Homo sapiens: one gene and its partner. The protein of the gene in region 1 purifies or fractionates together with the protein of each later gene. This does not show direct contact. Each region holds a gene or a part of one and is shown on either strand. Other genes may lie near its edges.

Evidence for each region. Proteins that work in one complex are often made in the same cells at the same time.
Region 2: the proteins of TENT5A (region 1) and DCAF6 purify together in Homo sapiens (affinity purification with mass spectrometry; 3 studies listed by BioGRID and IntAct, with this or other methods). This does not show direct contact.

Annotation. Positions count from the first base shown.
Region 1 is NC_000006.12:81,750,945-81,754,694, forward strand, and holds the start of TENT5A (terminal nucleotidyltransferase 5A), read right to left. Parts: upstream 1,738-3,750; 5' UTR 1,487-1,737; intron 1,235-1,486; 5' UTR 1,198-1,234; coding exon 646-1,197; intron 1-645.
Region 2 is NC_000001.11:167,939,545-167,943,294, forward strand, and holds part of DCAF6 (DDB1- and CUL4-associated factor 6), read left to right. Parts: intron 1-3,750. UniProt on the Homo sapiens protein: Ligand-dependent coactivator of nuclear receptors. Enhance transcriptional activity of the nuclear receptors NR3C1 and AR. May function as a substrate receptor for CUL4-DDB1 E3 ubiquitin-protein ligase complex.

The sequences.
Region 1 (3,750 bases):
TGCAGTTACAATCAAATATAAACTAAATTATGACATTCCAGGAGCCTGCCTCCTCAGACAATTTTAACTAATCATATAAAACCCGTCTTGAACTAAAGTGGAGGGTGGGGAGGGGGTGCCACTATACCCTTAACATATGAACCAGCACGAAGAACCACCAGATAGACCTTTAACACGTAGTCAGCTGAATGCCGCTGTGAAATCTATTCACCTTTTCCAGTACAATAAAAAACTCATTGACTCACTTCTGCTTCAGGCTGTTATTTTCCCAAAGGCTAGACTCAAATATAATGACTCAAAAATTATTTACATCATTTCATTCTGCCAAGTATCAGAATCTACTCTGGACAAGACTCCAACAGGGAAAGCCAAGAGTTAAAACATAAGGAGAAAGAAGAGAAGAGAGGGCAGAGGAGGACCTGGGAGAAGAGTTGTAGCGCCAAAGCATCAAGTAAACTGAAACACTCAACACCGTCCACGCACGTCAGTTTACTGGTTTAAAAAATCAAAAATCAAAGAAATAACGCGCGCCCAAACTCGTGATGGCCACAGATTCATGGCATTTAACCGATGCCCCTCTGCCCGCTCCCCGTCACACCCGGCCCAGACTGGGTCAGGACCCAAGTGCATCTCGGGTGGTGTTACCTTGAGCGTGAGTGGTGTGATCTTCTCTTTGTTCACCCCCTCGGGTAAGAAGTCCAACAGGCAGTCCAGCACGACGTCCTTCACAGTCTGAAACTCCCCTTCCCCGCGCAGGTCGGCGCAGAAGATGAGGTCCAGGTCCTTGTAGCCCAGGCCGCTGTCCTGGTGCAGGACATGGCTGGCTGCCGAGCCGTTGAGGCGCACGTCGCGGACGCCAATGCGCTTCTCGGCCAGGCGCCGCCGCACCACCTTCACGATCAGGCTCGGCTGCAGCTCGAGCGTGGGGAAGTTGCCGCGCCCGTGAATCGGAATGGTCTCGCTCAGGATGCCGTCCAGCCGCTGCACTTGCTCCCAGTTCAGCACATTGCAGTGCGCCGTAGGGCTTTCGCAATAGTCCAAGCAATGCCCACCGAAGCTGCCGCCACCGCCGAAGTCGCCGCCGCCGAAGTCGCCGCCGCCGAAGTCGCCGCCGCCGAAGTCGCCGCCTAGGGGGATGTAGGGGCTGCAGGCCAGCTCGTCCTCAGACATGGCGAAGTACCCTTCACCCTCCGCCATGTAGTGCCCGCCGAGCGCCACTTGGCCCTGGTCAGTCCTAAAAAGAAAGGGAAAGGAGCGCGGTGAGGACGCGCGGCGGCGGAGAGCACGCGCGGCGGCGGAGAGCAGAGGCCCGCCAGGAAAAGAGCGCCCCCTCCCCCGATAGTTCCCTGACCCCGGGCCTCCTCGGAGACTCCCTCCCCCGGCCCTTACAGTCCCCAGCCGCGCACCGCGCCCCGCAGAGCAGCCCCGCACCAAAAGTATCTCTGATGCATCTGGAAAGCGCAAGCGAGAGTCCCGTCTGTGTCACCTGGAGGCGGCCGCCCCTTCTAGGAGCGCAGCGAGCGAGAGCGAAACCGAGAGGCGGCAACACTTCCAGGAGCTGCGAGCGCGCTCAGACAGCAAATAGCGACTTCGTCTTTCCCAGACCCCTGCCGCCTGCGCTCACCACTCCCTCCCCGCGACCCCTCCTGCGCCGCTGCCACCCCAGCTGCGGTGGTCCCGAACTGGCGGCTCTTGCTGCCACACACGCTCGTGTCTCTGGAGCTTTAGCAGTTGTGCGGGGAAAATGTCTTCAGTACTTTTTTTATACCGGGCTTCTCTGCGCTTCCGGGGCCCAGAGCGGCACGTTCGCCACACCCTCCTCATCTGCATAGGGCGCCGCCCCCTCTGCCCTCCCCCGCCCGCAGGGCACGCAGCTGACTAGCCCAGCAGTTAGTGCGGGACGACTGCCGGTGAGCGTGAGGTCCTGGGCTGTATGTGCGGATACTGTGTGCGCCCGTAGATGCGTGTATTTATACATACATTTAATTTATGTACGCCCCCTCCCACAAATCTCTTTTCATTTTCCCCAGGAGGAGACACTTTAAATGCCCCAGGAATCATAAGTGGTCATCAAAACCAGATCACGACTAAAATCCTGCAACTGCAGAAACTTCCCAAAATTCTCGCGGACTCAGCCCGTCTTTAGATCATCACGGTTGGGCTCCGGAGGTTCCTCACGACCGCTCTTTTAAACCTCGGTTTTTAGGTAGACCATTTACTCCATTGATAAACCCGATCCAAGTGTGGACTCATGAGTCCACTCTTGCACGCAAATCAGTCACGGCGCGTGAGTGGGAAGGGCTTGTTGATAACTGGGTTTCGATTCTCGAAACCTCGGGAAGCGCGCCGGGGAGCTCTGGGCGAGCCCGAGAAGGCGCGGGGGCGGCACCACGGGCCTCGGGCGTGCGCGGCTCCTGCGCACGAGTGGCTCCAAGGGGCCAGTACTTCGCGGGGGTCAGGGCGCGTCACGGAGCAGACGCGGGCGAGCAGCCAATGGCCGAGGACTGGGCGGGCCGAGTGGGCGCAGAGAGCGCGCCCGGGGAGTGCGTGCTGCCCCGGAGTCCAGGGAAAGGGCCGCTAGGTGTCCGGTGCCTTTGCTGCGAGTTCTCTGACAAAATTGGAGGCGGCGAAGCGCGTTCCTCGCGGCCCCCTAAAGTTTGGCCATTTTAAGTGCATCATAGTGTCAGTGGAATACGATTTGGTTTTCCACGAGACGTAAAAGTAGGAGTTTCAAGAATAAAATGAATTCTCTCCTCCAGCTTCGGTGACTTCGGCAGAGCTAATTCTACGCACGCTCACTCGCGCCACCACCACTCTTTGCTAGAAAGCTGTGGCCGTCTCTTCGGCAGCTCGCTGCCTCCATCAACTAACCCGGAGCAGCTTTCCCAGCGCCTAGACGCTGCCGGGGGCTGAGGTGGGGCAGAGGGGAGAATGCCAGGGTCACAGAATACTCCCCAAACCCTGCTCAGCCCTGCCCGCCCAGACTGGGAGGAAAAACAGCCCGCACCTCCTAACTGGGGGAGCCCCGGCCTAGTCACTCAAGCTGCGCGGCTCGGGGGTGAGGGGTAGGGTGCGGGGGTGTCACCCGTGGAGCATCCAGCTGCGTGACAACGCCGCCCCCTCCCGGTGCCCTGCCGAGCTGCGTCCCAAAATGGAGAAATCCGACTGTCTCTGTGGCAGAGGCCATCCCCTCAGCGCTGCGCCTAAGCACTGAGGTGCGCCTGGGGACTCTAGGACAACTACCCTGTCCGCATAGGGCCATCGCTTCCTTCAGAGCACACCCATGTGTTCCTCTGACCAGCCATCGGCGCATGAATCTATCTTAACCAGGCATTTTATACATATATATACATATGCATATTCTTGTGTGAGCATGTGTATAGAGAGAGCATTTAGTGACCTGTTACGTGCCAGGCAACAGGCTAAGTGCTGAAGATTTAAGAATGACATTTCACGTAATCTAGAGGGCATAGCACCTAGGTGCATAATTATGGTTCAGTTGCATATGTATTATGAGAGAAGTATATTCTGACGCAATCGCGTGGCGGGCTAACTACATAGGAAACGGAGAGACACCCGAGAAGGTGTCATTTGGACTGGATCTTGAAAGAATGGATGTTCTTTCAGTAGTCGGGGAAAGAGGAGAAGAGCGTTATCTACAAAGGGAAGCGTATGGAGTTGGAGAATGTTTGAGGAAGGATATGTACACTCCCGTGATTAATAAATGAGATTGGTAGTGCCTTGAGATAA
Region 2 (3,750 bases), on another chromosome or scaffold:
TGAGGTCAGGAGTTTGAGACCGGCCTGGCCAACATGGTGAAACCCTGGTCTTTACTAAAAATACAAAAATTAGCCGGGAGTGGTGGCGTACGCCTGTAGTCTCAGCTCCTTGGGAGGCTGAGGCAGGAGAATAGCTTGAACTTGGGAAGTGGAGGTTGCAGTGAGCCAAGATTGTGCCACTGCACTCCAGCCTGGGCGACAGAGGGAAACTCTGCGTCATAAATAAATAAATAAATAAATAAAGTATGGTACACTTATAAAGCCTTCCTTTTAAAAGTCAAATTCCAAGTTAGGATTTTCCTAAGGAAATAGATTCCTTTTTTAAAAGACTTCAATATTTAAACATTACGATTGTCTATCTACAGGGTTGTAGATTTAAGTATTTTTCTGATACATTTTCATTATTTGTATTTCTACAGATTTTTTAGCAGTGAATTACTGCTAAATAGTAAAATTGGGATAGAACAAATAGATAAATTTTTCTTGTAGCCTTTACATTTCCAGTTATTTCACCATAGCATGTGCCCTTTCAATGTTAATATTCAAGCTTTGTAATTGATTTTACTTAAACTGATTAATTATCTCCTTTCTTCCCATCAAAGAAAATTATACTTCAGAAAACTTCCTATTATGTTGTGGGAATGAAGATGAATAATTTCCCAGATGTTATTTATGATTAAAAGATATGTTTACTTAGAGCTCCCAAATCCACAAGATTCACCTGGGCCAACAGAGTGTTGTTTTAGACTAGCATGGATTTAGAGGATAGGCCAGGGATTTTAATCTTTGTGAGCCCTATCTAAATTTCAATGTAGGATTCTTTTTTTTGGTGGGAGGCGGGGGGCAGGGTGAGGCAGGGTTTTGCTCTGTCTCCCAGGCTGGTGTGCAGTGGCACCCTCATGGCTCACTGCAGCCTCCACGTCCTGGGCTCAAGGCCATCCTCCCACCTCAGCCTCCTGGAATTTTTTTTTTTTTTAAAGAATAATTATCAAAGTCAGAGATACCTGTAGGTTTAAATGTTTAAATGTAATAGTTTCTCAAATTACTGTATACTAGGTGTAGAGTAGTGCTTTTGGAAATCAGTGATTTATTAGCCACACAGATTTTATTATCCCATATATATACGGTTTTGTAAAGATAAACATTGTTAATAAAATAAACTTATTTCAATACATTGCTTGTTTCTACTCATATTTCTTTCCTTTTGGACAGACACTCCTACAACTTTCTAACCCTTCTAAATTAAAAGATAGTAATTGATAAAAAAGTAATTTTAAGGTACTTCTCAAGGGAGTTATTTATTATAATGTATAAAATGTGTAAATTATGATTAGGCAGCCAGTGACAATTTTTTAGTGGAGATTGAATCTCATCTTTTTGTAAGGAGTTTATGAAGTCAGTGTCCTTTGAATATCATTAGAGTCAGTATGTACTGAAATGGATAATTTTGCGTGTCGATTACTCTTTAGTGCATCTTGAATACATCTGCATTCTAGATTACCAGGTTCTTCATAATATGTTGCCAAGTTACAGTGTATTTATTATATGAAGATTAGTAACTTCTGACTTTTGCCTCTTTTTTTAGCCATTGGGGAAAAGTTAGTGAAATATTTGTATTTTGTTTCTTTAGTCTTGAAATTTCAGTGAAAGCTGAAAAATGTATGATTTTAGTATTGAAAAATGACGGTCAATTGTGACAAACGTAAGATATACTGATAATTCCTTAAGGCAGGACACCAAAGGCATATAAGTAATCATAACAACCATAGACACTATGATAGCTCTACTGTGGGTTTCATTGCTTCCTAAAATAGGATGAATCAAGTTATAAGTGCTTAGAAGGTTTAGAAGCTTCTGGTAGCATGGAGCTTATGTTACAAGTATGCTTTAGGTCAGTGTTTTTAAAATGTTTTAAAAATGATCCATGATAAAAGTACATTTATGTGGCAACCTGTGATATACACAACGAAAATAAAGGATTCTCTAGGTGTATATATAAACCTTACTAGATGGGATGCATTCTGTTTTTTTTCATATTGTTACAACTGTTGGTGTTGAACTGGTAGAGTACGCACTAATGAGTCTCAGCTTGAGGTTTGGAAAATTGTTCTAGATGGTGTGTAGTTCTTGTAATTTAATGTTGCTTCAGGTTTAAGGTGGGCAGGCTTCCCCAAGTACTTGAAGGAGATTAAAAAAATTTTTTTTTAAACACTGCTGATGGCTCCACAGGGAAAATGTAAATAGTGAAACTTCATGTACATCTTGGACAAAATAACTAGGGTCGAACACTTTTAAATAGATATCTATTGTGGGATTGCTGACTTGTATGGTAAGTATGTTTAACTTTATAAAAAACTTCCAGACTGTCTTCCAAAGTAATTCTACCATACTGCATTCCCACCAGCAGTATATGAGAGTTCCAATTGCTCCACATTCTCATCAGCATTTGGTGTAGTGAGTCTTCCTAATTGTAGCCTTCATGGTAGGCGTGTAGAAATATATCATTGTTTTAATTTGCATTTCTCTTTTTTTGTTTTTGAGACGGAGTTTCGCTCTTGTCGCCCAGGCTGGAGTGCAATGGCATGATCTTGGCTTACCGCAACCTCTGCCTGCTGGGTTCAAGAGATTCTCCTGCCTCAGCCTGCCAAGTAGCTGGGATATGGGCATGCGCCACCATGCCCAGCTAATGTTGTATTTTTAGTAGACATGGGGTTTTGCCATGTTGGTCAGGCTGGTCTCGAACTCCTGACCTCAGGTGATTGACCTGCTTCGGCCTCCCAAAGTGCTGGGATTACAAGCATGAGCCGCTGCGCCTGGCCTTTAATTTGCATTTCTCTAGTGGTTAATGATGTTGAGTATCTTTTGTGGCTTTTGTTTTTGTCATCCATATAGTCTGGTTAAATGTTCAGGTTTACCTTTTTAATATTGTAAGAATTCTATAATTCTTTATATAACAGTCCTTAATCAGATATGTACTTTACAAATATTTTCTGTCAGTTTATGTCTTTTTCTTAACAGGTTCTTTTATAGTTCATACTTTTTATGTCCTATCTAAGAATCTTTACCTAATCCAAGGTAACAAAGATTTTTACTTTTTTTTTCCTGGAGATTTTATCTTTTTACCTCTTACATTTAGGTCTGTGAACAATTTCGAGTTAAGTTTTACATATGTTGTAAGAGTCAAGTTTCATTTCTTTGCATATTAATGTGCAATTGATCTAACAGTGTGTGGAAAGACTACTTTTTTCCCTTTGTTGAAAATCAATTGACCATAAATGTTTAAGTCAATTTCCTAGCCACATTCCATTGATCTAGCTTCATGTCTTTATACCGAGGATTGAAATCAGCTAGTGTGATACTTTAAACTTGGTCTTTTTTTTGAGACAGAGTCTTGCTCTGTCACCCAGGCTGGAGTGCAGTGGCTCGATCTTGGCTCACTACAAGCTCCGCCTCCTGGGTTCACACCATTCTCCTGCCTCAGCCTCCCGAGTAGCTGGGACTACAGGCACCCGCCACCACGCCCGGCTAATTTTTTTGTATTTTTTTAGTAGAGATGGGGTTTCACCGCGTTAGCCAGGATGGTCTCGATCTCCTGACCTTGTGATCTGCCCGCCTTGGCCTACCAAAGTGCTGGGATTACAGGCGTGAGCCACCGCGCCTGGCCGAAATTTGGTCTTTTTTAAAAAAATTTATAGTTATCCTGGCTATTCTGAACCCTTTCTATTTCCATAAAAATTTTAGAACTAGCTT